4 separate regions of the Homo sapiens genome follow, and regions 2, 3 and 4 are each linked to region 1. The links come from fine-mapping of genetic effects on gene expression. A gene starts in region 1. Each other region holds a variant in brackets. All regions are shown on one strand. Distances are from middle to middle.

Evidence for each region. PIP is the estimated chance that this variant, and not a neighbour inherited with it, causes the effect.
Region 2: its variant is fine-mapped to the expression of SPATA13 in whole blood (TOPMed, PIP 0.98).
Region 3: its variant is fine-mapped to the expression of SPATA13 in monocytes (TOPMed, PIP above 0.99).
Region 4: its variant is fine-mapped to the expression of SPATA13 in whole blood (INTERVAL, PIP 0.91).

Annotation. Positions count from the first base shown.
Region 1 is chr13:24,156,099-24,164,203 of GRCh38, forward strand. It overlaps SPATA13 (spermatogenesis associated 13), which reads left to right and starts at 4,622. Exons shown (of 13, transcript NM_001166271.3): 1 at 4,622-4,834. It overlaps MIR2276 (microRNA 2276), which reads left to right and starts at 6,318; the gene lies at 6,318-6,406. RefSeq lists a silencer at 4,513-4,572.
Region 2 is chr13:24,247,328-24,255,432 of GRCh38, forward strand. SPATA13 (spermatogenesis associated 13) reads left to right here. Exons shown (of 13, transcript NM_001166271.3): 3 at 2,150-2,515; 4 at 4,391-4,535. It overlaps SPATA13-AS1 (SPATA13 antisense RNA 1), which reads right to left and starts at 7,112. Exons shown (of 3, transcript NR_046531.1): 1 at 7,009-7,112; 2 at 5,752-5,872; 3 at 5,422-5,629. RefSeq lists enhancers at 570-1,069, 4,401-4,535. The variant C/T (reference allele first, on the strand shown) is at 4,289.
Region 3 is chr13:24,271,551-24,279,655 of GRCh38, forward strand. The region is part of intron 4 of SPATA13 (spermatogenesis associated 13); the gene reads left to right. Among named protein-coding and RNA genes, the nearest start is that of SPATA13-AS1, 21 kb to the left of the region's middle. RefSeq lists enhancers at 3,071-3,360, 3,661-3,720. The variant A/C (reference allele first, on the strand shown) is at 3,417.
Region 4 is chr13:24,298,289-24,306,393 of GRCh38, forward strand. It overlaps SPATA13 (spermatogenesis associated 13), which reads left to right. Exons shown (of 13, transcript NM_001166271.3): 12 at 2,113-2,187; 13 at 4,310-8,105. The coding sequence ends at 4,485. Among named protein-coding and RNA genes, the nearest start is that of C1QTNF9, 7.2 kb to the right of the region's middle. The variant C/T (reference allele first, on the strand shown) is at 3,644.

The sequences.
Region 1 (8,105 bases):
GTTGCTGTCACCTTGTGGCTGTGTGAATACTGCTGCTATGAAAGTGGGTGTACAAATATCTGTTCGAGTCCCTGCTTTCAGTTCTTTTGGGTATATCCCAGAAGAGGGATTGCTGGATGATACGGTAATTCTAGTTTTTTGATTTTTGAGGAATTGCCATACCTGTTGTCCACAGCAACTGTGAGGACAGCGTGAGACCGTTTATTCTCCTCTTTTGCCTGTAGCTGCCCTGCCCATTCGTATTCCCCCCTCCAAACCCAGGTGTGATGGGGGCCCTGTCTCCGAGCAGACAGGGAGGCACCGTAGATGGCACACTGGATCTGGCTCCTGGCCCACCCCATCTGTACTCTAGTCCTTTGGCCTTGATGACCCATTCCTGGAGGCAAAATGCTTTCCTCTCTGTGCCTCAATTAATTGGGTTTCCCAGCACCCCAATAGCCAAATAGATACTTATGTGCTAAGATAATGTGATAAATGCCAAACATTATTCTGTCATCCTAGGAAGCTTCAAATTAGAGAGAGATCTGCTCTAGTAAACTGTAGAATAAAATATAGCAAACGCACCTTATCCATTCTAATCAATGATAGCCACCAGTTATTGAGCATTTGACCACGTGCCAGGCAGTGAGCTGGGACTTTACATACATTATTACACTTAATTTTCACCATAAGATATCACAGATAAGGAGCCGGTCAAAGTGAGGTTATGAAGTTTTCCTAGAACCCACATGGACAGAGAGCAGAAGAGGCTCAGGTTCTCTCCTGCTCTCTTGGGTCTTGCCTTATGTGCCAGAGGCATCTGTGGTTCAACCAACCCCCTTTTGTCCCCTGCCACCTTCACAACCAACAAGATGCTGGAGGCTGCTAGATGAAGATAAAAATGTCAGTGATATTACTGACAAAATCATCTGGAGAATGAGTGCACAATTGTTGCTAATGATCTCTGAGTGACCTCCCAGCTCCTTTGCCTCTGCTTCCCTAACCCGGTCTAGACCTTAAGTTACTTCCTCCAGGTGAAAGTCTGGTCTGTGGCATCCAGACACTGACCGCAGATTTCTCCCAGCCGTAGTCTGGGCGGAAAGGTTAAAAAAGAGTGAATACTCTGTGCTGTTAATAAATTAATAAATCAGGTTATTCTATCAAGGGAGTCTACCAATGGATTTCTCCAACCAGTCAGGTAACTCCTTTTTCTTTTTTTTCTTTTTAATATATTTTTTTGAGATGGAGTCTCGCTCTGTCACCCAGGCTGGAGTGCAGGGGCGCGATCGCGGCTCACTGCAAGCTCCGCCTCCCGGGTTCACGCCATTCTTCTGCCTTAGCCTCCGGAGTAGCTGGGACTACAGGCGCCCGCCACCACGCCCGGCTAATTTTTTTTGTATTTTTAGTAGAGACGGGGTTTCACCGTGTTAGCCAGGATGGTCTCGATCTCCTGACCTCGTGATCTGCCCGTCTTGGCCTCCCAAAGTGCTGGGATTACAGGCGTGAGCCACGTGCCCGGCTGGTAACTCCTTTTTCTGCAGTAGAGGGTGGGGCGGAAGCCATACGGGTTACTTTATAGGAGCTCCTCAAAGAAAAAAAACTGAAATGAGGAGAAAGGAGTTTCCTTTCTGCCCTGTACCTCTTGAGAAACCCCTGCTGAATGGAACTTTCAGCAGATGGAATACAGCATTGCTTCTCCCCAACCCTGGGGGAGCTCACAGCACTGCTTTGTTCAGAGCATTTTCAAACAGGAGCATGAGATCAAATCCTGGCTCCACTGCTCACCAGCTGTGTGACCTCAGATGATTCGTTCAACCCTTCTAACTTCATTTGCCCCATATATAAAATGAGAAGGATAACTGTACCTCAAGGATTGTCTTGAGGATTTAAGAAAATGATGAATGTAAACAACGTGGCATAAGTGTCCAACAAATATTAAGGGAAAGACACATTCTAGTTTTGGAGATGTTATGTGGAACAACAACAAAAAAAGCGCGTTAGACTTAGTGAGAGGTGGTAGTTTCTATCCTTAGACACTCTCCTGCAGAAAGCATCAGTGTTGTTAGGACGAACTTGGGTGAAAGTTTTGAATATTCAGGCTCCAGTTAGAGTCTTGAGTACCAAAAGATCAGCAGAGAAGAAAAGAGGTCACCGACCTTTGGAGGTTCCCACTTGCAGGAAACAACAGAATGCAGATGCCGGCCTTGTCTGCGAGGCTGTGAGTGATGGCGGCCATGTGGATAGAGAGCCATGTTGACAGAAAGCCACTGCGGGAGACCTAGGCTTTTACACAGAGGCCACATTGTGATTCCCGCAGGAATGGTAGAAATGGAAGGAAATTTAGCTATTGCTCGTCCTAATCTCTGACTTAACAGAATGGAAAAGCAAGAATAAGCGTCGGCTGGTGATGTACTCCCGTGATGAACACAGCTGGTTAGAGCCAGGTTGGACTGCGCCGCCTCTTCATGTCAGATCAGTGAATTTTCTCTTGAGCCATCCTGCCTTCCTCTAATAGATTTGTAATCTGAACCCAGACATATCTTTTATCCCAGGCGCTCAAAAGGTTTTCACTGAAACCCTGAAAAAAATATTTTTTAAAACTCACAAACAAACAATCAGCAAGCACCTGTATGTGCTAAGTTGATAGATAGTAAGAGTCTTACATGGGCTAAAGTTTTAATTCTCCACCCAATGCAGAGTGAGGTCCCACTGTCACCGGCTCACTGACGAGGAAGCTGAGATTCAGCAAGGTCCAGCACTCGCCCAGGGCTTGTACAGGGCCTCAAGGATGCGGGGGTCTTCAGGTCTAGTTGGTATCACTCCACAGAAATCCATTCATCTGAGGGCCAGGCCTGTTTCCCAAGGACATAGTTTCAAATATAGTGCTTTCTTCACTATAAAAAGTATTGCATGTAAATGTTAATAGTGGTTTCCAAGTAGGCAGAAATAACCTTTTGAAACACAATTTTTTTAAAAGAAAAATCAAAATCTGCTCCTCAGATTTGTGCTAATTCTAAAGAGATAATAAAAAAACCCTCAATTTAGACCGTGATATTTTTTTTTAAATAATACTAACATAGATTTCATTTTAGCATTTGTGAGTGCTTTGTGCAGATTTTTTATAGAGTAGAAATAAAATGGAACAGTCAATGATATTAGCCTCACATACTATGTTTCTAAAATTTTCCAAGGTTTGGTTTTTATATTTTTTCAGCTTTAAAAATACATGGTCATTGTTAAAACTTGGGGTAATTTCAATAACAATTCAAAGAATTAAATAAAATTTGCCCATATTTCCACCACCCACAGATAATTATCATTAATCTTGGAGTGTGCTTTAATTAATAGACTATTTTTAGAGCAGTTTTAGGTTTAGAAAACAGGAATGGAAAGTACACGGAGTTCTGATGTACTCCCTCACGCCCCTCCCTCCACACACAGCTGCTTGTACTGACATCTTACATTCGAGTGGCACATGTGTTATGATTGATGGGCCCATGTTGTTACATTAAGATGAACTAAGTCCATTACTTACAGGAGGCTCACGCCGCATGCTGTTCATTCTGTGAGTTTTGAGAAATGCATAATGACATGAAGCCACCATTATAATGTCATACAGAGTTTTTTCAATATTTTAAAAAACATACATAAAATTAATTTTCACTTTTCATTGGGTAATATAATTTTTGTTTTTTATTTTACAGATTGTGGGTATTGTTCTTTGATTATAAAAGACAATAGACATTTATAAATAATAGTGCTGGCCACTAAATGAATCATCTAAAAAACTACACTGGTAGAAAGCATGCATTTATTTTATGAATTCCATTAGCTGCCTATCAGGGAACATGGAGCACTGGGGCACAGATCCCAGCACAGAAGGGTTTGCTTCTCTTCTGTGGTTTTCATGTCAATTAATGATTAGGCCTTGAGCCTCACAAGAAAGGTGATAGGCCTTTGAGTCGGTTTACTGCAACAGTCTACTCAAGACTTGCCCCAGGCCCTGGGAAACATGTAGGTTTAAAAATCCCTACCCTGCGTTTTCCTTTCACAGGGAGTGAACTTCTGGCCCAGGCAGTGGGCAGTGGGGCACGGTTGCCCCGGAGATGAGACTCCTCTTCCCGCCCTGGGGGGTGGGGGCTGGCTGGTGGCTGAGGGAACTATTTTTGTTTGTTTCTTTTTTTAAAAAACGGAGTCTGGCTGTGTCCTCCAGGTTGGAGTGCAGTGGCGCGATCTCGGCACACTGCAACCTCCGCCTCTCGGGTTCAAGTGATTCTCCTGCCTTAGCCTCCTGAGTAGCTGGGATCACAGGCGCCTGTCACCACGCCCGGTTAATTTTTATTTTTATTAGAGACGGGGTTTCACCATGTTGGCCAAGCTGCTCTCAAATTCCTGACCTCAGGTGATCCGCCCACCTCGGCCTCCAAAAGTGCTAGGATTACAGGCAAGAGCCACTGCGCCTGGCCGGGGAACTGTTTTTGATGGGTGGGGTCCCCGGCTGTGGTTGGTAGTGTGGGGGCGTGGCCGAGGGTGTGGCCTGAGGGAGTGAGCTAACCGGGGGCGTGGCCTGATATGGGGCGGGGGGAAGAGCCGGGCTGGGGGCGTGGCCTGGTGGGGAGCGGGGCTGGGGCGTGGCTTGGCTGAGTGTGCTGCCGCGGCGCGGGAGGAGAGTGTGCGTTGCGCTTTCTCCCGCGATCGCCCTGCCGGTCGCTAGCTCCGAGGGCGCGCACTGGATCCCAGGCTCCTCCGAGAGTGCGGCGACCTCGGGGCTCCGCCGGCACCGGAGGTGGCTCTGAGGGCAGGGACGTGTTGGACACGCTGACTTTGTAGGCTCCGCCAAGAGGCGCCGCAGGAGGTAAGACGGCTTCGGGCGCGCGGCTCTGCCGGGCGGGCGCGGGCATGGGCTGTTAGGTAGAATATCGGGAGGATTTGAGTCCCAGTGGACTGCCTCGGGGCTTCGGGATGTCCAGCTCCCAGCTGCTTGGCCTCTGCTTCCCCCGCCGGTGGAGGCTACCGGGTGCTCACCTGTTAGGTCCGTGCGCCCGCTCCCTGCCCGGCGGTGGCTCTGCGCCCTCTGGGCCACCCGGCACCATCGCTTTTGGGAGGACATGCACGTGGTGTTCTCGCAAAAGGCCGTTTCCAGCCGGAAGCCTGCAGGGAGGTCGCCTTGTAACTTCACCCGCGCTCCCAGCTCGCGGGGCCTGGCCTACAGGGGCGGCCGTGGGGGTGGCAGAGTCTGGGGAGCCTGGCGCGGCGGAGCCCTGTAACGCTCTGCTCCATCGGGTGGCGTGGCTGGTGCCTCCGGGGACCCGGAGCGATGCGGTTGGAGAGCTTAGTTTAGAAAGCAAGTTTCTCTTGGTACCAGCGGAGTCTCGTCCCAGGGGAAAGATTTTGGGACCCGGTGCCCATCGTCTGTGGACTGCAGGGAATGCATTGGCGGAGTTGGTTTGGTCCCATTCTGTGCAGGAGGTGGGGGAATTGGTACTCCAGCCCCAGGCAGGTAGAAGCCCGCGCTGCTGCCAGCGTCAGGGGGAGCTCGGGTGACTTGGGCTGGGCCACCCATCTGACTGCAAGGTTACAGAGCTTGAGCAAATTTCCCCTCCCTCCAAGTGCAGGAAAACCAAACCAAAGCAAGCAAACAAAACCCTGTGGGTCATTTGCTTCCCAGCATTGCATAGGGATGTGGATAAATAGAATAATACTGTGAATTTATTCAGCTCTTGTTCCCATGGCTTCCCATAGCCTTATATTATGCACCTCCCCCTGCCAGCATTTTCTCTGTCCCCACCTTCGGTTTTTGCTGCCTCGTGTTTTCTTCTCTGTGAACCTTTCCTGGTCACCCAGCGATTTGCTCTCCTTTATTCCCCTTGCTAACAGGCGGAGAAATCTCACTCCTTTTCTTTTTCCACCTTTCCCAACAAATTCTCCTTTTTTCCTAATGTCCCCCTCCCCCGTCTTGCAAACTTCCTCACTGCATTATTCTCGGGGTGCCTGTCATGCACCCTCCCTGTTCTCTGCCCTCCTCCCGCACTTTAGAGTTTCATGTGGCTTTGTCTTATTATCCCATATCCTAATTCTCATCTACCTCCCTTGGCCCCCACGTTTGCCATCTGCCTCCACCCAGTTCTCCCATCTCCTTCCTTATTTGTGCTCCCGTGCATATGCAGGTTTCTTCCTTGTTTCCCCATGTTTCTCCCACAGGTGCTTTCTTCCCTTTGCCCTACTTCTCCCTGGCAGGCGCTCTGCCCAGCCACAGCCTGCCCCGCCTGGAGGGCACACCTTGCCTCAGTGCCTTCTGCTGCGGTTTTCCATGCTCCATCAGCATCCCTGGGTTCCTTGTGTTCTTCCAGTCCGCCCTCTGTCACCTTGCAGACGGCTTTCTCTCCGAATGTCTGCAAGTGTCAGAGGCGAGGAGTGGCAGCTGCATCTCTGCAGGAGGACTCTGGATTTCAGGACCCTCCCTTCTGCCACTGCTTCTGACTGATTGTTTTCTTATTGAAGTCGTATCCTCTACATAGTTCTAGAATTAATGTCAATATTGATGTTAGGTAGCATCTACCAAACTCTGGGTGTGTGCCAAGCACTGTTCTGAGGGCTTAACGTGCATCAGTACTCATTTAAAATCCTCCACACATCCCTATAATGTAGGATCTACTACTGTCCCCATTTGACAGATGAGAAAAGGAAGGCTCAGAGGAGGTAACCGGCATGGCTTCTTGCCACTGCCTAGCAGTGGAGGCCCTCTTCTCACCAGACAGTGGAGCTTCCCTGCTGGGTGACCTCTTGAACTCAGGCATGCCTGGAGTTTAGCTTTGGAAAGGAGGTTGTTATATGACATGTTTTATTTAGTCTGCAATGTACACCAGTGGAGGACATGAATTCTATACCTGTAGGACAGTGCATGGAGAAAAACCTAATGCCGGCTGTCCCTCAGAAAGCCTGGGGCCAGTGCCTGGGCTGTCACCTCATCCATGCTATCAGTCTACTTTCCCTCTTAGCCACAGGAAGCCCTGAAGAAAGTGGCATAAAAATGACCTGGCTGGGCACAGTGGCTCATGCCTGTAATCCCAGCACTTTGGGAGGCCGAGGTAGGAGGATTGCTTGAGCCCAGGAGTTCAAGACCAGCTTAGGCAGCATAGCAAGACCCCATCTCTAAAAAATAAAAATAAGAAATCAGCTGGTTGTGATGGCGCACTCACCTGTAGTCCAAGGTGCTCAGGAGGCTGAGGTGAGAGGATCTCTTGAGCCTGGGAGGTTGAGACTGCAGTGAGCTATGATTTTGCCACTACACTGCAGCCTGGGTGACAGAACGAGAGACTCTGTCTCTAAAAAAATTAAGTTAAATTAAAAAAGAAGACTACTGCCAGCTGTCTCCTCCCGTGCATTGAGAGTTCCGTTTCACTTTAGCTGGACAGATCTTTATGGTCTCTGTTAGCTGTGTGACTGTATGAGTCTTATTTATATCCATTTCATTATGTAATCTTAAAGCCTTGTCCAAACATTTCTTTTTTAGTCTTTATCTTCCTAAGAGTTGGAGGCAAGTAGTATTTCTACTTTACAGATACTGAAGCAGAGCATGCACCTTGATAGCTGAAAGGGACTTTATATTCTACAGATGAGGAAACCGTGGTCCAGGGAAATAAAATGGCATATTCAAGGGAAAGCAGCAGGACAAAGTTGGCTCTAAGGCTTCTCTGGTTCAGGGCTCAATGCCTGGCCCTATAGCTTGGTAGGTTGACCTCTCTGTTTGCTGCTGGAAGCAACAAAGTTTCTTTCCCCTTCCTTTCCCTTGAGCTAAGAGGCATTGGAAGGTTTCACTTAGAAGGGGAACTCATCAGTGCTTTCCTTTCTTTTTTGTCTGAAAACTAAACATTTAAGAAATGTTTGCCTATGAGACATGTAATAGCATAAATGGGATCATAACATCACAGTGGTATAAATTCAAATGTTTTAGAAAGAACTATCATTGTTATTTCTAAAACACCAGGAATGAACACCAAATGTACATGGTTTTCTTGAGGGAAACTATATAATACATGGCAATTTGAAAATCAGTACCTGGAATGTTTAATTGTATTTTACATTTGTGGAGAGAAATGCATTGGTACAAAGTGCTTACCTGATTT
Region 2 (8,105 bases), 91 kb after region 1:
ATTGTTTTGTGTCTTTGTTGCCACTGATTAACTGTGTGGCCCTGGGCAAGTCACGTCACTTCTTTAGGTCCCAGTTTTCCTGATTTGAAAAATGAGTGGTTGGAGTAAAGTATCTATAAACCCCACACTGTGCTCTTTGCTCCACATTCACTTTTTTTTTTTTTTTTTTTGAGACAGAGTCTCCTTCTGTCACCCGGGCTGGAGTGCAGTGGTGCAATTTCAGCCCACTGCAACTTCCACCTCCCGTGTTCAAGTGACTCTCCTGCCGCCTCAGCCCCCCAAGTAGCTGGGATTACAGGCACCTGTCACCACACCTGGCTAATTTTTTTGTATTTTAGTAGAGACAGGGTTTCACCATGTTGGCCAGCTGGTCTCAAACTCCTGATCTCAAGTGATCTGCCCATCTTGGCCTCCCAAAGTGCTGGGATTACGGACGTGAGCCACCCGCCCGGGCTCTGCATCCACTTCTTCATGGCACGTGGCCTCAGTGAGCATTCAGACCCTCAGGCTGGAAATGGCGAGCCTGGGGCCCGGGGTCTCTTGTCACTGGCTGGAGGTGTGCCTCCTTTGCCTCTACCAGCCACCATTTTGGTTTCTCAAGGAGGGAGCCGGTGGGCTGCGGCACAAGCTCTGTGAGCTCCCAGGGACTCCTGCAGTCATAGTCTGCCTTCTCTGGTGGTTCTGGTTGTCCTCCCTGGGCCCATGGCCTGACTGACAGCCCTTTTTGTTTATATCTGTAGGTAAGGTTCAGGGGTGGAAGACGGAGGGCATGCAGGCAGGGCTTACAGGCCTCCACTCCTGCAGGTCTCTGACGCAGCCCTCCTCTCTGGCCAGGCTTTGAGGGGTCTGCTCAGACAACTGCTCTCTCATCAGGCCTGATCCCTGGGAATGGTTACTCCATGGCCCAGCTTTTTCAGAGCAGCAAAGAACTCCTGCCATAAGAGCTGTCTCACCATTGTTGCGTCTCATCCTTCTAAGGACCTGCTGTTTCCCAGGGAATGGCTGCAGAGCCAGATCACAGAAGTTAGGTGACTTGCCTGAGATTGCACTAGGTCTTGGGCCAGACACAGTGACTGAACATGTCTGCTCGATTCCCAGCATCATGTGCTTTTCTGGTACATTGTGTTGCCTCTGAAAAATTATCTGAAAAAATTAGAAGGTGATGCCTCATTTAGGATCATAGACTCTTGAGCTGTGGGATTGTCCAGTCCAAAATCTGAGATCCAGAAAGGTCAGTTGTGACTTGTCCCAGCTCACACCACTAGTGAGTAGCCTAGTCTAGTTCTTTGAATCCTCGTTCAGTGCTCGCCCCATCAGACTGCTGCCTGGAGGCTGTTGGTGGGAGCCAGAGGCTGCTCGAGTGTTGGGTCCTGACAGCCCTGGACTTAGTCCTCTTAAAGCACCTTCTATTTTTAAGTAGTGCACGTTATTGAAAGAAGTGGGTAGAACAGCAGTGGATGGCATTACCCATTCATTTCTTCTCCTGGCAGGTCTTTGGGGGACACCTATGATAGTTATAAAGTTCATTTTACTAATTCACGATGGTGCTGATTTTCTTTTTTTTTTTTTTGAGAAAGAGCCGTGCTCTTTCACCCAGGCTGGAGTGTGGTGGTGCAACTGCAACTTTTGCCTCCCAGGATCAAGCAATTCTCCTGTCTCAGCCTCCCAAGTAGGTGGGACTACAGACACGCGCCACCGCGCCCCGCTAATTTTTATATTTTTGGTAGAGATGGGGTTTCTGCATGTTGCCCAGGCTGGTCTTGAACTCCTGACCTCAAGTGATCTGCCTGCCTCGGCCTCCCAGAGTGCTAGGATTACAGGCATGAGCCACCGCATCCGGCCAGTGCTGATTTTCTTAATGCCTTTTATCATAGCTCATCATTGGTCACCAAACCACTATTTCAATTATGGTTATTGAAATATCAGCCTAGAATCAGCCTATTGAATCAGCCTATAAGAATAGATTTGGTTATTTTGATTAAGGTTTGGTTGTGTCTTCATGTTCTAGTACACAAATAACTGTTTTAATAAACAAGTAAATCAAGAAAACCCGAGGCACGGCTGTGGTGGTGAGAGGGAATGTATGGCTTGTTCTTTCTTTAATACCTTCCTGGATATTGAGCTCACCTGACCTGTTCGCATTTGAAAGGTCGTCCCTGATGGCCCCTGGAGGCGAAGCTCATCACAGGATGAGGAAAGGACAGAGGCACAGAGAACCCCCAAGAGGAGATGGGGCTCTGGGAGACGGCCAAGGCCTCGGCCATTCTCTGACTACGGCCAGCTGGCCAGCCGCAGTTTGTCTATTCCTGAAGACTCGGTTGCTGCAGACCCCCAGAAGGAAGACCGTGTGGACGAGGACCCCCAGGCAAGCATGACTTCTGCCAGCCCTGAAGACCAGAATGCTCCAGTGGGCTGCCCCAAAGGAGCCCGGAGAAGGCGCCCCATTTCCGTGATAGGTGGGGTCAGCTTGTATGGGACCAACCAGACGGAGGAACTGGACAATCTTCTGACCCAAGTAAGATCTGGTGTGCACTTCCCCAAGCCAGCAGAGGCCCTCCAGCTTCCTGCCTCTATTCTGTCTGCACACTAAACTGGATCTGCTTTTTCTCTCCCGTTCTCAAGGGCGGCACCATGTACTTAACCACCTTTTCTTCCTGACTGTGTGAAAACATGCATGAATTCAAACTAACCACCTGACGTTTGGATGCCTTTTGCTAATCTTTCTTTCCTGGGATCTCAAATAATACATGAGACTCATTTGCTGTTTGTTTCTGAATAACCTGAGATTCTAACCAGGGAAAGGTAGCAGGGCATATTTAGTAAGACTCCTGAAAGAAGTAATTGTTGAAAAAGACAGTATTGTTCATTGTTAAAATGTAAAGATAAAATGTAAAGAAGAAATAAATAAAATGTAAAGAAGAAATAGTTTTTTAGGAGATGAGAAAGTATTTTGTTTTCCACCATTTTCTTATTTTTTTTTTGAGTTGCAACTTTGCAACTATTAATAGTTTGACAATGGATTAAACACTTAGTACTGGTTTCTTAGTATAGTTTAGTAATTCAACAAATATTTATCCGGGTATCCAGTGAGCACTTTGAAAATACAAAACATTTAATTAAAGACCCTATCTTGGAGAAGTGTATACTTATTTGTGGAGGCTAATACCTTGGCCATGGTAAACATTCACAGAACAATATATGAGTAATATATATGCCCACTTTCATTTTTAAAACCTGGTAGCTGATGTCGTAAGTAACCCATAAAATTATCTTAAAAGGGAACTCCTATGGAGTACTAGTACTGGATTGTATACGTCTACATTTTTCCTGTAAAGCCCCACACAATGCCTTGTCTATAACAAGCACTCAAAAACTCTTGCTTAAATAAATTGAATTGATTTCTTAAGGTTAAAAAATTAAGTTGCAGAATATCATGAAAATGTTAAGAACCTTTTGTCTGAAGGTGCTCCGCTGTTGGGAAATGATTCTGTACTGAAGCAAATTGTCACGCATTTTAACTCAGAACAATAGTCCAGGATGCTCCACAGCCTTAGAAAGGGTTTCACTTCAGAGCAGCCAAAAGGAATGTGCGAAGTAATTTTCTGTACTATAACCTAATGTAGGGAATTGAGTGGGAAAATTGTAAGAAAACCTAAGGAATTACATAAGCAGGATATGCATGTAATAAACAAAAGAAGAAAAAAAGAAATCTAAGGAACGTATAAAGCAACTGGGCCTTTGATTAATAGTTTTAGGGATCGCTATTATAGAAAACCAGAAGGGCATTATAAGAGAGACCTGGGCAACTACATGGAAAACCACTTCTTTCAACTAAAGCTCCACTGCCGTGTGAGTTTGGGTAAGCAAGGCTTGCCTTCAGCTCCACAAATCCTTACTGAGGGCTCATCTATGCCAGGCTCTGTGTCGGTGGGGAGGAGTAAATGAGGCTGAAGAAGGATGTGAGGATCACAGATGGCCACCCTGGCCGGGTTTGTGGCCTTGTCCTGGCTTCCTCCAGAGGCCACCCCTGGGAAAGCATCTTCTTACCCTTGTGACCCTGCATCTGTGTGACAACTCCACTGCTTCCTAAATGTGCCTTCATCTTCTCAGAAGCTTCTTTTTCCTTAGTGTGACCTATTGGCATGTTGCAGACAAGTGAGATGAAACATGAGGCTGCAGGGTGCGGGCCAGTAAGCTGATCAGGATTGTTAAAAACTGTAGCATCATGAGTTGCCACTGGGCTTCGGTGCAGCCTGCAACTCGTGGCAGGATTGGAGAAACCATTTCA[C/T]GTCTGTGAGTGGCTTCGAGGTGAGAGCGCTATGCGTGTGAGGTGCTTGCAAGAGCTGCCACTTCCTGGTACCTCCTCACAGATTTTGCTTTCTTTTTGCAGCCGGCTTCCAGGCCGCCCATGCCTGCTCACCAGGTGCCACCCTACAAGGCTGTGTCGGCCCGGTTCCGGCCCTTCACATTCTCCCAGAGCACCCCCATTGGGTTGGACCGTGTGGGACGCCGGCGGCAGATGAGAGCATCCAACGGTGAGTCTCAGAGTCCCTTTCCTTTCAGAGCTGCTATGGGCCCATCTGACCGTTTCCAGCTAACCTGAGGCAGCAGGTTCTGCACCTTCGCGCCTCCCTTGGGCCAGGGCGCGTTTGTCTGGGAGTGAGGACGGCTCATCTCAGGAGAATGGTGCATCATTTGCTGTCTGGGGTAGATGCTCTGTGTGCCAGGCTGGTGGCTCTAAGTTTGAGAAGTTTGCCCCTCCTGTGGTGTCCGTGTACATACATTCCTGCATGTGGAGATCCCTAAAGAACCGAGACCCAGGCTAGAAATCCGAGATCAACACGTCAGCAGGGTCAGTTTCTTCTGAGGGCTGTGAGGGAGGGTCTGCTCCAGGCTGCTTTCCTTGCGTCTGGTGCCCTCAGTGTTCCTTGGCCTGTAGGAGCATTGCCTCATCTCTGCCTTCATGTTCACATGGCATTCTCCCCTGTGTCTGTCTGTGTTCAGATTTCCCCTTTTTATAAAGACACCAGGCTTACTGCATGTGGGCCCAACTTAGTGACCTCATCTTAATGTGATTATCTACCTAAGACTATTTCCAAATAAGGTCACACTCATGGGTACTGGGGGTTAGGACTTCACCATCTTTTGGGGGGACACAATTCAATCAAAAACGTATACCATGTTTGTAACAATATGCAACGTGTACCCATATGGCAGAAGATTTTGAAAGAACAGGCAGAAATAACAGTAGCATTGTTAGGGTGGTAGGAATGTAGAGCACTTCTCCTCCCACCCCGTACCTGTGTACACACAGCCTTTCCCTGCTTTCTGTAACACTGGTTTTTGTTGTTATGTTAAAAATGTTTTAATTTTAGCGTTCTTTTGTCGAAAAGCAACAAAACCTAACTCTGGCTGTCTTAAGCAAAAAGGGAATTTATTGGAAGGGGGCCAGGTGTGCCCAGAATTGATGGGATGGCTGGGGAACCAGGCTAGGGAAGGGATGGCATCCAGGCTCACTCCTGGGAGTGGAGGAGCCACCGGAAGGTGTGTGATGGGAGACTGGCCATGGCACTGTCCCAGGAGCTAGTGAGGTATCCAGTGAGCACTTTATCTGGGTATCCAGTGAGCGCTTTGAAAATACAAAACATTTAATTAAAGACCCTATCTTGAAGAAGTGTATACTTATTTGGGGAGGAGTTATAATAAGGAGTTAACTTATTAGGAGTTAGTGACTGTCTTTCTGTCACTCACCCAGGGGTTCAGGTCCCAGGATGGAAGATTCAGCTGTCCGAGCTTAGGTGATATGTCCACCACCTGGTGGTACTGGAACAGGAAGAAGGGTGGGGTGTCTGTCTCCAGGGACCCTTGCCTTCTATATGTGAAGACAGGCCAAGTAAGTATTTAACAGAGCAGACAGTACTATAAAGAAAAATAAAACAGGATAGAGAGCATTCATTTCCAAAGAGTGTTATTCTAATGACACTCTAATGAACAGGATGCACCTGTTCCATGAACCCTCTCTCTCTTCCCTAGAAGGAGACACCCAGATCCTCATCAGTGGCAGCAGACACCTCCAAGTCTAGGACCTCTTAGGATAACTAGTCCTCCAGTTCCATGCAGTGCCTCTTCAGCGTTGATTAACTAGAGGCAGATTTAAGCAACACATCCCTACCAGAATGGCAAGGCAGGGAAAGGAAGGAAATAGAGAATTTGGGATGCTGTGGAGAATAAAACGTCATGCAAAGTTTACATTTCAGCATTTGAACAGATTCCATAAGTCAATATGTAGGATGCACCAAGGCACCAGTGACGGCCCTGCAGAAGATGACTTTGGGTAATGTGAGGAGTAGGAGCAGGTGGGGGAGATAGCCTCCTCTCCAAGGAGGTGACGCTGGGGACAGGTGAGTAGGAGGCAGTGAGGCAGAGATCCGAGGGAGGAGAAGTCCTAGCCGAAGGAGCACCAGAAGCCCAAAGACAGGCAGGAAACATGATGTGTCTGAGGTTCAGCAAGGAGGCCACAGTGACAGGAGCTCAGGGAGCAAGAGGCAGACGAGGATGTTGCAGGCTGGGAGGTGGGCTGAGGCTGGAAAGGGCTCTGCAGGTCATGAGGAGGCTGAGCTTGTTCTAAGTGTGGTGTGAAGCCATTGGCAGCAGGAGCATATTATGTTCCGGTTTATGCTTAGAGAGGGAGGGCAGTTTGTGGGGGGAAAGGAAGAGGAATGGAGATTGATTTGAAGGCGATTGCATTAGTCCATTTGAGAAATATGGTAGCAGTGACCACAAAAGCCATCCCCATTTTCCGTGGGTGCTCATTTTCCCAGTGGTACGAAGAGGCAAAAATGGCCAGCCTTGGTTCTGATTCACTGTGGCCAGGACTGTGAACTCTGGAGGAAGTACTTCTCCCTTGGGCACTAAATTCAGTTTCAACAGAGCAGAGTTCCTAGGTGGGAAGAAAACATTTTGCAAGTATATTATTAAGTAATCCTAAGAAGCCGCTTCTATGTTTACCCTTGGTTTCCGGCCCTGCATCTTCTGCTGTGGGCCAGCCTCTCCAAATTAGTCACTGCTTCAGAGCTTGCGTCCCATCCAGGGCAGTATGGCAACTTCTGGGTGTGTCTCCCAGCTGCCTCTGTAACTTCATTTTTATTTGGTTGTTATTGGGTGTGATGGGGTCATGTGCTTCCTTCTCTGTGACGTTCTGGGCCTGGATGGCGTGTGAGATGCTGCGACAGGATAGGGGCCTTCTAGAGGATCCACAGAGTGCAGGAAAACAAATCCAAGCCCAGCATAAGTGGCCCTTCCAGTAGGGACAAATCACCACCCCCTCTATTATGAAAAGGCCCCACTGCAATCAGCTTTCCGCAAGGGGCTGTCTGGTTCCTGCGGGGAACCGTATCATCAGCTTTGTTGAGGGGAAGGCCCAGACTTCCTGTGGTTTAGCCCAGGCTTGGCATCCATTTTTGCCACCATGGCCTTTTTCTTGCTTGCTTCTTTTTTTTTTTCCTTTTTATGAACCCACTGAGCAAGTATCAAGATGACTAGGAAGGAAGACTGGCATCTAGCTGCACATTGGGACAGCATGTCCACATGATGATTGATTAGCCTCTCTTGCAATAAGGATTCATGTAGGATGGACATCATCTCATGCTCTGCGGGTATTCTGAGGTAGCCAGTTATACTCCTTCCCCAAACCCATCCTCAGCCCATCTTGTTCTTTCCACATTCCTCCAGGCCATTCAGCCAGGCCATTAGCTCCTAACCAGGAGTGCGCACGAGCTAAATCCTTGCCTTGCCAAAGCCATCTCTCCTACTCAGAAAGGCTTGGGAAGAGTATTGCTTACATTTGCCGCCGGGAGTTTCCCTGTCCTGAGGACACAGTCACCAGGCTGATGGTAGGAGTTCTCTTTGAGAAGCTAGGAAGAAGACTTGTAGTAGGATGCCTACCCTGAGGCTCCCTGGCTCTGCTCCATCAAGAGGCCTGAGTCTGGGAGTTGAGTGAGGGCCCTCCCTTGTCTTCTCTGTCATGGTGGCTCAGGTCGGGCTCTGCTTGCCAGCCCTGGAGAGTTCCTCCTACACAATGTTGTGGTACCTTTGTGGAATCACTC
Region 3 (8,105 bases), 120 kb after region 1:
ATTTGGACTATTTAAATGTGAAAGAAACTTTGTACTCTCACACTAGGAAGCCATAAACTCTAATCCTCACATTCTGAAAAGGAAGTAAGAAAAAACAAGACTTCACAGACAGGCTTTTCCCTGGCTGCACTACATGGATACAATAGGATGCTTTAGAAACAGATCTTGTCTCTGTTTTTGCCCTAAATAGATGCCAGCGCCTCGCCTGAAATGAATGGGAACCGTAGATGGCAGCTCGAGGCAGCCTGGGGCCCTGTCAGAGCAGTACAGTTTGTAGTCTGTGCTTTCTTCCTTGTTTTGATTGGTTTCTGTGCTGCTGACAGACAGAAAGCAGGGATGTGGTTACGGCTTCTGTGTCTGGTGGATTATCAAAACAAGACTGGTGTGTACTCCATTTTACGAGCCAAAATTTAGAAAAAGGAAAAAAAAAGTTGCCTGGCGATTTCTATATTGAGAACACAGACCACATGAGTGAGAGGGCTCGGTAATGCTAGCGAGACGGCACTGGCAAGACCTGGGTGGAGGAAGCGGACGTGCGGGTGCTCCCTCCCAGGGTTCCTGCACCCATGGCCTTGAGCAGGGGCGTGTTCATTCCCACCGGGAGTGCAGCCAGCACGAACGGGCAGGGGTGGGGGGCAGGTGGCCCCTGGCTCTCCTCCAGCATTCCTCCACCGCCTTCCACACAGGGGAGGCCGAGGGAAGCCCGACCCAGCCTCCAGCTCTGAGCGGTGCTCCCTCGGTGCTGCTGGAGAAACAGCATGCCAGAATCTGCCCTCTGCGGCCTTGACCCTCTACAGCAGTCCCTCACCTGCCTCTCTGAGAGGGGCCTGGGTCAGTGCACTGCGGAAACTGTTGCCACTCCTATATGCGCTATACTGAGTGAATACATGTAATAAAATGACAACAAGCACCATATTTAAAACAAATAATAAAGCTTGCCTATGGTGGGTTTTCTTTCCTTTGAGAGCTCTGAGAGGGCAGGGGGCAGGGGAGGGGTTGTGGGGCTCTGAAAGACCCTGAGGGACTGCCTAGTGGCTCCCAGGAGGACGCCATGTCAGGGAGGGCGGGTTTATGGGTTGTCTGCCATCTTATGCTGTCCTGTCCTGTTCTCCTGTCAGTGTGAGTTGAAGCCGAGCCTGAGACAGGCTCATAGCAGGATCGCTTTGCTGGCAGACACACCTGGCTTTGAATCCAGCCCCGCAACTTGGGGAAAGTTACTTAACATCTTTGAGCCACGGTTTCCTCCTTCATAACCAGACAGCAACACTCCAAGATGCTTGTGAGGCTCTCAAGAGGATTTATTCCAGCGCTGAGCGCAGTGCCTGGCGCACATTAAGATGCCAGGAAGCCGGATGGGTGATTGCTCAGGTCTGTCCAGCCAGTTGGGCAGCCGTCAGAAACTGGGAGGGCTGACGAGACACCAGCCCAGAGAGCTGTCAGGGAGCGGCAGAGCAGAGGAGAGGGCCCAGGATGGATCGGCAGGTGTCAGCCAGGATGGACGGGAGGAGCCGTGCTCAGAGCCAGCAGCCCCAGGACGAGCAGCTCCTGGCTAGGAACAGAAGACAGGCACTGTGGGACAAGTCAAAGGTAAAACCTAAGAGCTCACCGCAAGATACAAAGAAGCCCAGAGCCAACGACGCCCCAGCTCTGAACTGGAGACGGGACAGAGGCTGAGTTTTGAGAGCAGGAGGGAGTGGAGCTGCTGGCTTGGTTGTGGGGTCTGGAGCCAATGGGGTGTTGGCTGCCCAGGGTGCAGGGCCCTAAGTTGAATACTGATGTGAAGCTATACATTAAGAGAATGATTCTTCAAAGCTCCTTAGACATTAATAACAGATTATTAGTGAGAGTTAATATGTCAGTTTCTAGGATTCCTTTTGATCTTATTGTTGTCCACATGTTTAAAAGATTGAAAAATACTATTTGTGAAGAATGGCTTGAAAGTCTAGATTAGATATACTAGTGACTTTTCCAACACTAACAGTTTACATTCTGGAACATGAAACATATTTCATACTTTAATTCAGTCACCCAACACTGACTATTAAGCATGTTCCTTGTCCTTGAGAAAGTCATAGCTAGGATAAGAGTAGGGACAGGATATAAAGGGACAGATATAAACTTAATAATAACTATAATGTAAATGCGATACATATTTTAAAAGAGGTTAGTCTAACATGTTTATAGAACATCAAAGGCAGATATTGTTATGGCAGAGGATCAGGGAACTGAAAAATAAGTCATGGAACCGTCACCAAGCAATGATGGTTACAACTTTTGTTTGTTGTTTGGTTGGTTTTTGTTTCCTTAAGTTTATTTTTAAATAGAGATGGGATCTTGCTATGTTGCCCAGGCTGGTCTTGAACTCCTGGCCTCAAGCAATCCTCCTGCCTCAGCCTCCTAAAGTGCTGAGATTACAGGCATGAGCCACTGCGCCCGGCCAATGGTTAAACTTTTGAGGGATGAGCCAGAATTTGATGGGCTGTTTTGGGTGGGAAAGTTGCTCCAGGCGGAGAGGTCAGCGTGGACGGATGGAAGGATTTTGTCCTATTCGTTGGAATAAGGAACATTCAGTGGTACACATTGGCTAACGCAGAGGTTTCCAGCCAATGCAATCAGAATCCATTGCCTGCAACTTGTGGCTTGCTGCATGGACAGGCAACAAAAGGCATATGTCCTAGAACAACCTGAGCATGTGGTGTGGTTTAAGTAAGCTTAACCTGAAGGTCCAGTGGTTCCCAAATTTTTCCAGGTGTCAGAATCATTTGAGGAGCTTTTCAAAATAAATTCTCAGCCAACATCCTTCCCCACTACCACCACCCAACCTGACTCAGTGGCCCAGGGCAGGGGAGGATCTTTATTTTTCTAAACATTTTCCATGTGATTAGATGCCACAGGCCCTGGGTGTTTGGGAACCACTGAAGGGGGATGGACCCTGGAAATTGTGCATCATGTTTTGACGTTGTCAGTTCCTGTGACCCAGCTCTTTCCCTCTGTGTGCATCTCCGTGGCCTGAGCTCTTGGGGTTCACCCATAGTTTCAGCCCACAGAGCAGCAGCCCGTGACAGCTGCTCCCAGCTGTGAACACGAGCTGCCCGCCTGGGCTTGCCATTTCTGTTTTTAAGATGGGAAGTCAGAATGGCTTATCTCAACTCTGAGGAAGTCTGAGCCATCAGCAAGAGGTTTTCTCAAATACATGATTTTAGCAGATTATTTTAAGGGTGGGGGAATTTCCCTGAAGTCAAGGGAGGGGAAATTCCCCACCAAGGAGTGATGCTGGGTGGGAGATGCTGGTCGGGAACCAGCTGCTCATTAGCTAGGCAGTGTTGGAGAGTGCCTCATGAAAATAGCTAAATCTATGTCTCCTTGTTGTCAAGTGCCTGATGTTTAAGGGCTGTGTTAGATCTCACCTCCCTTTC[A/C]TTTAACAGAACACCTCAACCTCCACCCTGTTATCACACCCTCACCAGGACTACCCTCCCCCACTTATCAGTCAGGGGCTTTTTTTTTCCTGATGTCTTCTCTAACTGTATTTGTAACAATCCTTCCAATTTAAAAAAATGACACCTCCTCTATGGCTACCACATTGTTCTCTGTAGTAGTTCCTAAAGCTAAAAGTGGCCAGGGCTGAAAATGGGGACTGGGGCATTCTACTCACTGACAGCTGCAGCCAGGAGGAAAGCAGAGAGGGGGAGGAAAATGAGACATTTGTGTAAGGGATGGACTGGGGAAGGACCAATGCAGCCCCAGGAATCAGGGGCCCCCAGAGGGCAGTGTTTCTAGGAGTGATGGTTAACCATGGTTATTGAACAAGAGCATTATAAATTCACTTTATTACATTTTTGGAATTGATAGTACTCTGTGGAACAGATGTGTTCTCTTGGAATTGTCCCCAGTCAGAGAGGCGCTGATGGTCAGCACGCAGTTTTGATGACCAAGGGTGTGCTCCTTCTACCTGACTGAAGCTGCGGGAAGTGTTGTAGAAAGAGCCTGCTCTGTCTGCTCTCATATTGATTGTATGTAGGCATTTGGGGTTTTAAAACTGATTTCAATTTGGAGCAGTCTTTGCTTCTTGTTTACAAGATCGTTTCCAAAAATGGCTTTTTGGGCAAGGTGCAGTGGCTCACGCCTGTAATCCCAGCACTTTGGGAAGCCAAGGCAGGTGGATCACCTGAGGTCAGGAGTTTGAGACCAGCCTGGCCAACATGGCGAAACCCCATCTCTACTAAAAATACAAAAATTAGCTGGATGTGATGGCACGCACCTGTAATCTCAGCTACTCGGTAGTCTTAGGCAGGAGAATCTCTGGAACCCTGGAGGCAAAGGCTGCAGTGAGCTGAGATCGCGCCACAGCACTCCAGCCTGGGCGACAGAGCAAGACCTTGTCCCTCACCCCTCCCCCAAAAAATGTTTTTTCCACACCAATTTTTTCAACAAAAGAAACTACGGTTGGTGAGAATGTGGAGAAATTGGAACTGTTGCGCACTGTTGGTGGGAATGTGAAATGATGCAGCCATGTGGAAAACAGTATGGAGAGTCCTCCAAAAATTAAAACTAGAACTACCATTTGATCAAGTATGCTAAAGAGTTGTAAGCAGGGTCTCAAAAAGATAGTAGCACATTACTCACAATAGCCAAGTAGTAAAAGGAGCCCAAATGTTCACCCACAAACAGGTAAACAGAATGTGGTGTGTATACTCACAATGGAATATTTTTGGTTTTTTCCTTTTTTAAAAATCAATGGAAGTGCTAACCAAACAATGGAATATTATATAGTGTTTAAAAAGAAGGAAGTTCTAACACTTGGTACACATGAATGGATGTCAAGGACATTATGCTTAGTGAAATGAACCAGCCATAAAAGGACATATACTGTATGATCCCATTCATATGAAGTATCTAAAGTAGTCAACATCATAGAAACAGAAAGTGGAAAGGTGGTTGCCAAGGAACAGGAGAGGAAGAAGAGGAAGTTGGTGTTTAATATGTGTGGCCGTTCTGCAAGATGAAAAAGTTCTGTCGTACAAGAGTGTGAATATACTTGACACTGCTGAACTGGAACTGTGTGCTTAAAAAGGGTTAAGATGGTAAAAGAAAGGAAGAAAGAAACAATAAAATTTACTTTTTAATTATTATAATACATTCATTTCTCCTGATTTTGGTGACATACATTTTGAGAATTTATAATAGCTTTACAGCGTCAAAATTCCCTTAGATAAGAAGTCATCATTATTAACTTTCATCTGTAGTTGAGGTTCAAAGCCTATTGAAGTTAGTGAGGAATGGAACATGTAGAGGTGAAGAAGGCAGCAGCACCGGCCTGTGGGTCTGGCCATTGTGAGGAACTCTGCCCAGCAGAGCTGGCATTGACACGCTGTGGACTACTACATCTAAGATTTTTCAGCTGAACTGCAAATTGCTATTTCCCCATCAGCAATTCGTAATTCAATTGAACAATGTCTACTGAGAGTATGTGACACTTTAAAAAGTGTTCAAGTAGAGTGGAGTCAGATTACAGAGAAGATATACCGTAAAAGAATTTTGTTATGAAGCAATAGACAACTCGCATGTCATTTCTTGTGACATCATAAAACCACTGTTTTAAGAAGTTCACCTTGGGCCGGGCGCGGTGGCTTACGCCTGTAATCCTAGCACTTTGGGAGGCCGAGGCGGGCGGATCACAAGGTCAGGAGATCGAGACCATCCTGGCTAACATGGTGAAACCACGTCTCTACTAAAAATACAAAAAATTAGCTGGGTGTGGTGGCGGGCGCCTGTAGTCCCAGCTACTCGGGAGGCTGAGGCAGGAGAATGGCGTGAACCTAGGAGGCGGAGCTTGCAGTGACCCGAGATCGCGCCATTGCACTCCAGCCTGGGCAACAGAGCAAGACTCCGTCTCAAAAAAAAAAAAAAAAAAAGAAGAAGTTCACCTTGGAAGTAATATATAGGATGGCTTGGGGAGGGAAACAGAGTCATGAAGACTGGCTGAGGGATTTTTCTAGCTAGAATCTCAGATGAGCACAGGGGTGGGAGTCAGAGAGACCTGGGTTCCTATCCTGGTTCGGACCCAGCCCCTGTATAGCCCTGATAAATGACTCAACTTCTTGGAACCTCAGTTTCCACATCAGCAATTTGCAGTTCAATTGGAAATCACATACTGAGTGCCTTCTGTATGCCAGGTACTATGCTAGGGGCTGGGAAGACAAAAATCAAACGTCTGTCCTTTCCTTTAAGTCTGTCCTGTCCTTTAAGATGGTAAGCGACCTAGACAGTAAGCGTGGGGAATCATAGAAAACCACCAGGCCTGGACGAAGCATCAAAGCATAGCACAAAGATTCTTCCTGTCTAGACATCAGACACTGAGAAATCCCACTCCATAAAACACACTTGAATTATGGGACAGGAACACAGGAGTCATTAACTTTAAGGGACTTTAAAATCGTGAAAGTAGTTAGGGTGGTGAAGGGAAAAGGATACAACCAGAAAATGGAATCAGGTCCTTGACAGGCCCCACTGGGAGCAGGGATTGGTAGTTGGAAGGAAGGGTTAGTGAGGGAACGGAGGGCAGGACATACGGCTGCTCTCCAGAATGGGAGCAAAACACACAGATTTGGATACTAACACTGTTTTTAATATCATTTTGTCTTATTACAAGTAACAGCTACTGCTGGAGGAGACAGTTCTGCCCAGTGGGTAAGAGTTAGATGGCCTGAGCCTGCTGCACACAGCTGTGTGTTATTGGGACTTGAGTTTCCTCATCTGCAAGTGGGGACAACTGACAGTACCTCCCATGTAGCATTGTCATGAGGATTATATGAGCCGGTTCATCTCCACAGCTTAAATCAGTGCCTAGCACATTATAGGCACCTGATAAAATAACATCTTGCAATTCTATTTTTAATTTTTTTTTAATTTATAGAGATGGGTCTTATTATGTTGCCCAGCTTGGTCCCAAACTCCTGGGCTCAAGGGATCCTCCTGCCTCAGTCTTCCAAAGTGCTGGGATTACAAGCATGAGCTACCACGCCCAGCCACATCTTGCAATTCTATACTGTTTTTCAATTTACAGGGTGCTTTCATGTATCATCATTCCACTTGAGGCTCAAAGCACACCAATAACAAGTACTTGTTCAGAATGTATAAACAACCCTGAGAGATGGGTTTTATCATCCACATTCAACAGGTGAAAAAACAAAGAAAGAAACTTGACCAAGGACTCATACTCAAAAAAGAAAAATATAGAAAAGAAAAAAAATGTGCATCGCTATCATTTGAAGGCAAGTTCATCTGACCCCAAAGCCTTGCATGAAGTCCACATGCTGTTTTTCTTTCCTTCCTTCCTTCCTTCCTTCCTTCCTTCCTTCCTTCCTTCCTTCCTTCCCTCTTTCCTTCCTTCCTTCCTTCCCTCCTTCCTTCCTTCCCTCCTTCCCTCCCTCCCTCCCTCCCTCCCTTCCTTCCTTCCTTCCCTGCCTCCCATGTATGCCAGGCAGGAACACAGTTAAGAATAAAGCAGACAAGAATTACTGCCTTTCTGGAGCTTACATTCTGGATAGTGAACAGAATACATTATAGACGGTGACAAATGCTATGGAGAAAACTAAACCAGGGGAGACAGTGGAGTGAGAGTGAGGGTTGTGGTTTTGAGTGGTATGGTGAAGGTGAGAGAGGGAGCCAGTGTGTGTGTACCTGGGGAGGGCTGTCAGGCACACGGAGCAGCGGCCCTGGGCAAGGAGTGCCTGCGGTCTTTGCAGCCAAGAGCCCATTGGTTGGAGAGGGGTGGGAGGCACAGTGTATCTGGGGAGAGGTCTCAAGAACTTTGGCTGTCTCCCCTGTGGATGATTCTGAGCAGAGGAGTGACACAATCCAGTCTAGGAATGGTTTGGCAGCATCGCTCTGGCAGCTATGGCCTGCCGGGGGCAGGGGTGGCAGCAGGGAGACCAGGAGGGGCTGCTGGAGGGAGCCCGAAGCTGGATGGGAACCCAGGCTTAAGTGGTGGGAGGGGACCCAGGCTTGAGTGGTGGCAGAGGGGTAAGAGGTAGCCAGATCCTGGACACTTTCAGGAACTTGAATCAGATCTGCCAGTGAGTGGGTCGTGGGATGTGAGAGGTGGA
Region 4 (8,105 bases), 140 kb after region 1:
CAGTTGATCCACACCCAGCAGCCTGCCCTCATGCTTCCCATCTCTCCCTATGAAACTCAGGATGCCGCATCGTCCATTGCAGTTAAGGCGATGGTACTTCACACCCAGTGTTACATTTGTACTTCTTTGGTTTGTCTTCCCAGCTTCTGCTGACCTGGAGGTGCAGTGTGGCCCCTGAGACTGAAGCTGCCATGCCTGGCATTAATGATGGCAGCACCCACAGTCTCTGAGCCTCTATTTCATTGCCTCCCAAGCTCTTTAGGGTTTTGAGCACAATCTGTTGAATGGAAGTCAGGGAGCCACAGTGAAGGATATTCATCTCTGCAGCCCAAGTGAGCCCAGCCCTCAAAAGTCATGGTCCAGGACGGAGGGGAGCCAGCATACGCCCCTCCCCATCCTTGCCCACTGCCATGAGGACAGCAGGACTAAAAACCAGGAGGTGCTTTTTCTGTCCTCCCCAGCCACTGGCTCTAAGCTTGGCTACAGAATTTGGTCTCACCCACAGGAGGTTTTGTGAGATTCTGCAGTAGAGTTGGAGGGATTTACAAGTTGGTCAGGCTAAAACGGAAGCAGGGATCGACTTGGAAACACTCAATGGGTAGACATTGGCCTGGACTTGGGCCACTCCAAGATACAGAGCTCCCCACATCACAGGCAGCCCCTTACACCAAGTGTCAGGGTGTCCTTTACACTAAGAGGAAATCTGATTCCCAGCAACAGCCATAGATTATTGGTGCAGACTCTGGGGCCCCATTGGAATAGGGCTAATCACTCGTGCCCAGAATTCATTTGAAGATGACAGTTACTAAAATGCAAAATGACAGAGCCACAAAATCTTAGTTTTAGTCGTCATATGACGTTGTCTAGCGCAGGCCCTGAAGTCATCTGTAAGTCAGAGTGTTTGGATTCCCAAAGACGGCACTATTTAGTGGGGGCATCCTATGTGCTTTCAACAGTGTCTCTCAATAGGAAGGAAAGGAGGGGCCCGATGTGGTGCCCTTTGCCATGTAATGCTCCCTGTGGCCAGTGCTCAGAGATGCAAGTGCATGACTGAGGCACTCCTGAGCCAGTAAGTCTGTGAACTGGCACGTGTGGGATAAAACTGGATGCATTCCTTGCCTCGAATATTTTGGCAGCCCTCGTACTTGATGCATGTGTGTGGGTAGAAGCTTCAGGTAGCAGATCAGAGAGAATGGACACGGAGGGCCTTGGAGGCAGGGACAGCCCGGTGGCCAGCGTACAGAGCCTGAGCCTGACGTCAGGACAGTCTGGGACAGATGTTGGGCATGTGAAGGAATCAGGGCCAGGGGAGCAGAGTGGGCAGAGGTAGAGAGGGAGCCTCGGGAGCGAGCCAGGCAGTGCAAGCTAGCAGACACAGGGCCTGGGTCAGCTCTGCCAAGCTGGAGCGAGTACCTGCCTACAGGAGGAAGGCTTCCCGCGGGAGAAGGCAGGGCCCCAGCACCCAGCCCTGGCCATTCAGCTCTGTCCTTCCTTCTCCTTCCCCACACCCTGCGAAGCCAAGGGTTGCCTCATCTTGTCTTTCCAGTGACTCTTGTTTCACCCAGTTCACACACTGCACACGTACACTGTCACTGTGCTACTGGACTTTACAGTGAGGGAATGCTCAGGGCACACACTACACACAGCTGGGGTACAGAATCCGCTACCTGCTACTCACGTGGTACCTTTGTTCAGGGTGGAACTGCTAACGTGCAAAGCTCTCATAGCGTATGGGTGAACACGCCCTGGGACCCTTTGCTCTGTCCTCTCCTTCTGGGGCCTCATCCTTTAGGTTATAATTGGGATGACCCTGTGGGAATATTTGCCCGGGAGCGTCGGGCTTCACACAGACATTCTGCATTCTCATGAGCACCACCCCATTTCACTCTCCAAACTGTCCGGGTTTGCAGGACAATCACATGGCCACCTTGGCGATAATCCTTGTGACTTCCCCTTTTCTGATCTTCAACCTGTCCACGTTCTTTGAGGATTAAGGTTCTCTGTCTCAGGTTGTGGTGATAACCTCAATGCTGATATGGGCTGTGATACAAGTTTTGCTCTGAAACATGTCCACGTGTTCTGAATATATATCACATTTATTTCTAAATGCAGGAATGGAAATTTCAGAAAACCAGAAGAAACTTGCCATGTTAAATGCTCAAAAGGCAGGACATGGAAAGTCAAAAGGTAAGTTATGGAGAAGGCTTTGTCCCCTTAATGCTTATCAGTATTCTCCTGAAAATGGGAGCATACCCCAAGTTGTCAGCCTGTGACCAGCTTGGAGCAAGGAGAACAGTAGAAGTTAGAACTCAAGGGCAGGTCCAGAACAGGGGCCAGGTGAAGGTGGCCTGTGTTTGGTTTTGAATGTGCGTCAGTGTTTGCTTCCATTGGAATGTGGGCATAGGAAACCTTCAGAGGGGCTGCTGGAGGGTGGTGGACCTCCTTGCCTGCCTGGGGCCCCTCTGCTCCCCTCCCCCAAGTGCTGATGGTGTTAGCCACAAGGTCACGCACATCCCCAGTCTGAGGCAAACCAAGGACTCTTGCATCTTTTAGGCATGAGAGGACAAAATCTCAAACCCCAAACTGCTTGTCAGCTGTAGGCTGGATATAGTCTAGTTTAAGTAAGAAAAAGATGTAAAGGTTCGGTACATCAGGCAAGGAGTTAGACAAAAAAAGACACGTGAGCTGATTTAGGGCGGTGATTCCCTAATCTCCATGCACATTAGAATTCCCTGGGGAAGCTGTTCAAAAATGCTGATGCCCAGGCCGCATACCCAGGGGCTCTGATGCACTAAGATTTGTCCACACAAATCTGGCCCAACAGGATGCAGATAATCTGGCCCAACAGGAATTCAGTAATAAGGATTTTTCCCCAAAAAATATGCACTGTATTCTTAGAAACTTTATTCCCGTCATCTTTCTACTTTAAAAGGCATTTACCCCATGAAATGTATCTCTTTTGGTATTTTCCTGACTGCAAATGCAAAAACAAGGACCAACGAATCCCAGGACTGCAATAGACCACTGACCTTTAGTCAGTGAAGAACTGATTCCCCAAACCACACTTAACACTCCCCTGCTTTCTCCATGCAAATGCAGAATTTCTTTTCCCCACTAAGTTACAAATATCTTTAAGGCAGAAAAACCCATGTTATTAATTTTTTTAAATCTCCACTTCTAATGTCAGATGACTAGTAAATCAATTTGTTAGAATACATTGTTTTCTGTCCATATCTTCTGCGAGTCACTCGCCCAGCAGCCAGGCTTCTCAAGAACGGAAGGACTGCTGACGTTCACAGGTGGCTACCGGGTGGGACGCTGTGCCTGGGTTATCTGATTTCTTCCTTCCTGCCACCTCGGGAGGTAGGGAGAGCCTTCTGGCAGGCCAGGGGCAGGGACGGGTTCTGAGCCAAGGCCTTCCTGCTTTCAGGGCCCACCCTCTTCGTGCCATGCTGACTTACACAGTTACGTTTTAATCTAATCGCTAATTTTAATAAACCTTCTAAATTACCTCTGCACAGATTAAAAATACCTATGCCGGTGAAGTTTTGATTAGAGTGATTAGATATTGAGGGCACAGTTCTAAGCACTTTACTTCTATTAATTCATTTAATTCTCATAGCAACCCCATAGGTACTGTAAT[C/T]CCCGTTTTAGGGATTGGGGAACCAAGGCGTAGAGAAATCATATCATTTCCCCAGTAATCCCAGCTGATAAATGGCACAGAAGAATTTGGGCCAAGGCAGCATGAGCTCCAGACTTCCATTTAGAGCATTTTATTGCTACTCACCTTGACTGTCAGTCTGGTTCAGATTCTGCCACTTCCCGCTGCACGTCCTGGCATTCAGTTTCTTTCCCTGTCAAGTTGTTGTCATAATACCCTCCTTGGAGGCTTTTTGGGAGAGTTCAGTGAGAGAGACTGTGTCACGCTCCACACGGAGTACCTGAACATAACAAGTGTAGCTACTGGACCTTCTTTTTGGTTAACGTGAATTAAGAATTAGCTCTCTACAAAAAAATATAAAAATTAGCTGGGCGTGGTGGCACACACCTGTAGGTCCAGCTACTTAGGAGGCTGAGGTGGGAGGATCGCTTGAGCCTGGGAGGTAGAGATTGCAGTGATCCAAGATCACACCACTGCACTCCAGCCTGGGTGACAGTAAGACCCTGTCTCAAAAAAAAAAAAAAAAAAAAAAAAAAAAAAGAATTAGCTGAGAACTTGGACTTGGAGTCTCAGCATTTTTATTTTTTTCCTTTCTGGTTAACAAGCGACCCTCAGTCCCTGTTCCATCTCTCTCCCCTCCCGAGTCAGGCTACAACAGGTGCCCTGTGGCCCCACCGCACCAGGGCCTGCACCCCATCCACCAGCGCCACATCACTATGCCCACAAGCGTCCCCCAGCAGCAGGTCTTTGGCCTGGCGGAACCCAAGAGGAAGTCCTCGCTCTTCTGGCACACCTTCAACAGGCTCACCCCCTTCCGGAAATGAAAACAGGAGGCTGTGCTTCCATGGAGCTGGGTGTCAAGAGAAGAACTGTCTTTGTTTCTTGTGTGCTTCAATCCAGGGAAAGTTTCTTGGACCCAGTGATAAAAACTTCCTTTTAGGGATCAATGAAGGAGAGAAGGTCTTGGAATCACCTTCAGTCTTTGGAGACCCAGCTGCCTTTGTGGAAGGGAGGAGACGGTCATGACACAAAGCTTTATCCTACACAGAAACACCCGTGACCCACTATGAGATGGCCCAGATGTGGGACCCGGTACCATGCTCTAAAGCGAGTGATTAGGCAGCAGCTGAAGCCACCCCTGCTGATGATGAGCAAGTGCCTGCTGCAGGTCCAAACACAGCATCCAGGGCTTTGCAGTTCCTAAGGAGTGATGAGGTTAGAGGATCACTTCTGCATTTGATTTTCAAGGATGCCGTCAAGACGGGGTTGACACAATGCTGCACGTGTCTGGTCACACTTAGAAATTGAGCTCTTACTCTCTTCTGTAATACTGGGGGACCTACAGCTGCCGTGGGGCTGACCACGGTGTTCCCTGGCATCGTCTGTGTCCACACAGATGCTAACTGGTAGTGCAAATGTCATCCTGCAAGGTTCCTCTTCCTGCAAGCAAAGTGGAGAGAAAGAAGATGCATCTGTCACCTTCATCAGGGTCCTCAGTGCAGAGCAACTTACGCATCCTCAAGAATCCACTGCTTTTCAGGCAAGGAGGGAGAAATCCTGCTGCACACTGGCTTTGTCCCGGAGTCGGATTCCCTCCTGCCTGCACGCCTTCAGTAACTCCGAGCAGAAATCACATCTTGCCCACATGCTGTAACCTAAGAAACTGCTATGCAAGGCTGGGTGCTGTGGCTCATGCCTGTAATCCCAGCACTTTGGGAGGCCAAGGCAGGTGGATCACCTGAGGTCAGGAGTTCGAGACAAGCGTGGCCAATATGGCAAAGCCCAGTCTCTACTAATAATACAAAAATTAGCTGGGCATGGTGGCGCATGCCTGTAATCCCAGCTACTGGGAAGGCTGAGGTAGGAGAATCTTTTGAATCTGGGAAGCGGAGGTTGCAGTGAGCTGAGATCGCACCACTGCACTCCAGCCTGGGAGATACAGCGAGACTGTCTCCAAAAACAAAAACAAAAACAAAAAACATTCAAACAACTGTTTGCAATATAAAAAGCTCATTTACTGTAATATTTATGATACAGTGAATATGAAAATGCACTGGTCAGAAGGCACTCTCAAAGAGCCGCACTGCTCCTGACATCGTCCTTAGCAATGAAGTCACAAAGACAGCCAAAGCAGTCCTGCTTCTTGGAAATCAGAAGCTGCCTTTATCACATATAAAGCCAAACAGGGCATAACCATGTCACGTGAGCATGTCATCAGGCTTCTGAGGACTTGTTCTTTATAAAAAAAGACCTTCACAAAATATCTTGGCTTAGAGATAGCAGTCTTTATTAACAAAGGCCACCTAGGCTGACACCTGCAGATAATCATCTCCTTTTCTTTGTCTATGTTGTACATTTTCATGATATAACTTTTAACTATGTCTAGAGAAGGCAGGCTCTGCAAGAGAGGTGCCCTTTCAACCCGCTCAGTGCCCTGGACAGGAGATGCTGTGTTAAACTGTTAATGGATATCTATATGAGAAGCTCATTTTTGTATGCTATCCCTGCAGTTTTTTTTTTTCTAACAGGCCCATGTTTGAGAATAAACAAGTCTGTGATGTCAGAGACAAAGGTGTATTCTTCAGTCTGCAGGTGTGTGGCACCTCCCTTCTCCCCTGCAGCCCCCCACATCCAGAGCCGTTCCTGAGAGTGACATCATGCATCAAGAAAACATAACCTTGGTCCTCAGGTGAACCCTTGGAACATTCTGTGACCGCCTGATGTCCATTCTGAGCCACCTTGGCACACATGCTTACAGGCAGCACTGCTAAGGGTTCAGGTGCCCCATGGCTGACAGCCCGAGTTGCTTCTGTGGACCATCATGCCGCTCGGCACGTCCTGAGACAGAAGTTGCTGCAGGAAGGAGCTTCTGGAGAGGTCCTGTGGCATGTGTGGGGGTGTGTGTGTGTATGTTTCCTTCTTGAACAGACATTCCAACTTTAGATGTGTTTATAGAACTGACCTTTTTACTAACAAAATACAATGATATATGTTGGAAACTACTTAATATGCTTTTCCTGCACACCTTAGCAATAACTGTAGGGGTCTCTGCTAGAGTTGTTTGTATGTACAGCAATTTTGAACAAATTGTTTTAAATGTAATATAAGAGAATTAGTTTAAGGAAGTAAAGAGAATCATTTGCTTGTGTTACATTTTCAGTGAGGATTCAGTTTAAGAGTCATTCTTAGGACTTCCATTTCCTAATATTTATTCATGGGTAATGAAGAAATGGTTTGCATTTTGTGGCCAGTCCTAATTTATTTTCCAGCTGAGCCCTAACTTCCGGCTCCCACCTACCTCCACGGACTTCCTAACAGAGACTTATGAATACCAGGATGTGTTTTTGTTAAGTCAGGTTCAATTCGTTGCCCCTGTCAGTTTTATAGAGTGTGAGGGTCACTCCATTAAAGATCTCTCCTGGGTGGATCCTACTTGGATGTTCAGGTGATTTTGAAAACTGCTAACATTTTTAAAAGGCTAGAACATCCTTTGACTTCTTGAAAATCTGCATGTCTGGCTTGGGTTTTATTACCACATGCCTGAGTTCTTCAAGAATGGAAGGCTCAAGTATTCTCATCTTCCATTTGCCAAACTTCCTTCCTGATTTGAGTCACGTGTTCCACTTGGAAAGAAAGGGAACAGAGAGCCTCCTCCATGGACAGTGTATGAATTTCATTGGGAATCTTGCTCTCTCCCGCCTCTATGCCTTTCTCTCTTTTTAACCTTACTTTACATAATATTATAGATGGGCCAAGAAAAGAAAAGATGACATAACATTTTGATGAATTTCACCTATTCCATTCTTCACGTTTCAGAATTGGTCGACTTTGTTAGAAGATAATTGAAGTAGCCTTGGGTCAAAAGCAACCTTTTCAATTGTGATCATACCTAAAACATATAAAAACCCTGCCGTAGATTAAAAGCAATTATAAAATCATAAAATTGAATGTTTGCAGAATCCTGGAGCAGTAGATTTCTTTGTCTTTGGCCTGCGGACTAGAAAGAGGGCAGCAGTAGTATGCTGGAGCTTCCCTGGGATACCAGCCACATGGTTTCTTTTCATTAGATCTGATTTTTGTTTCCCACTGTAGATCTGATTTTGTAGTTGAAAACATTTCACCACCATCAAACACTATTTCTGAATATTGTGCCTTTTTATACCTAGCCTAGATGAAAACCGATGCCATTCTTATTCAGAAAATCCCCCCATCCTACATGACTGTTATCTAGACATAAAGCAAAGTGCATTTAATTCAAAATTTGGTTCACAATATAAGTATTTTGTAAAAGCCAGCTGAACCAGCATTTTATCAGGTGGAAATCTCTGCAAGCCAAATTGCTGATACTCCTTCATGCAGATCAACTTGGTGTCCCAGTCAGAATAGAACAGCATAATTACCTGGAGTTAGGGGGAGTATTTCTGCACTATTACTTGTCAGGGAG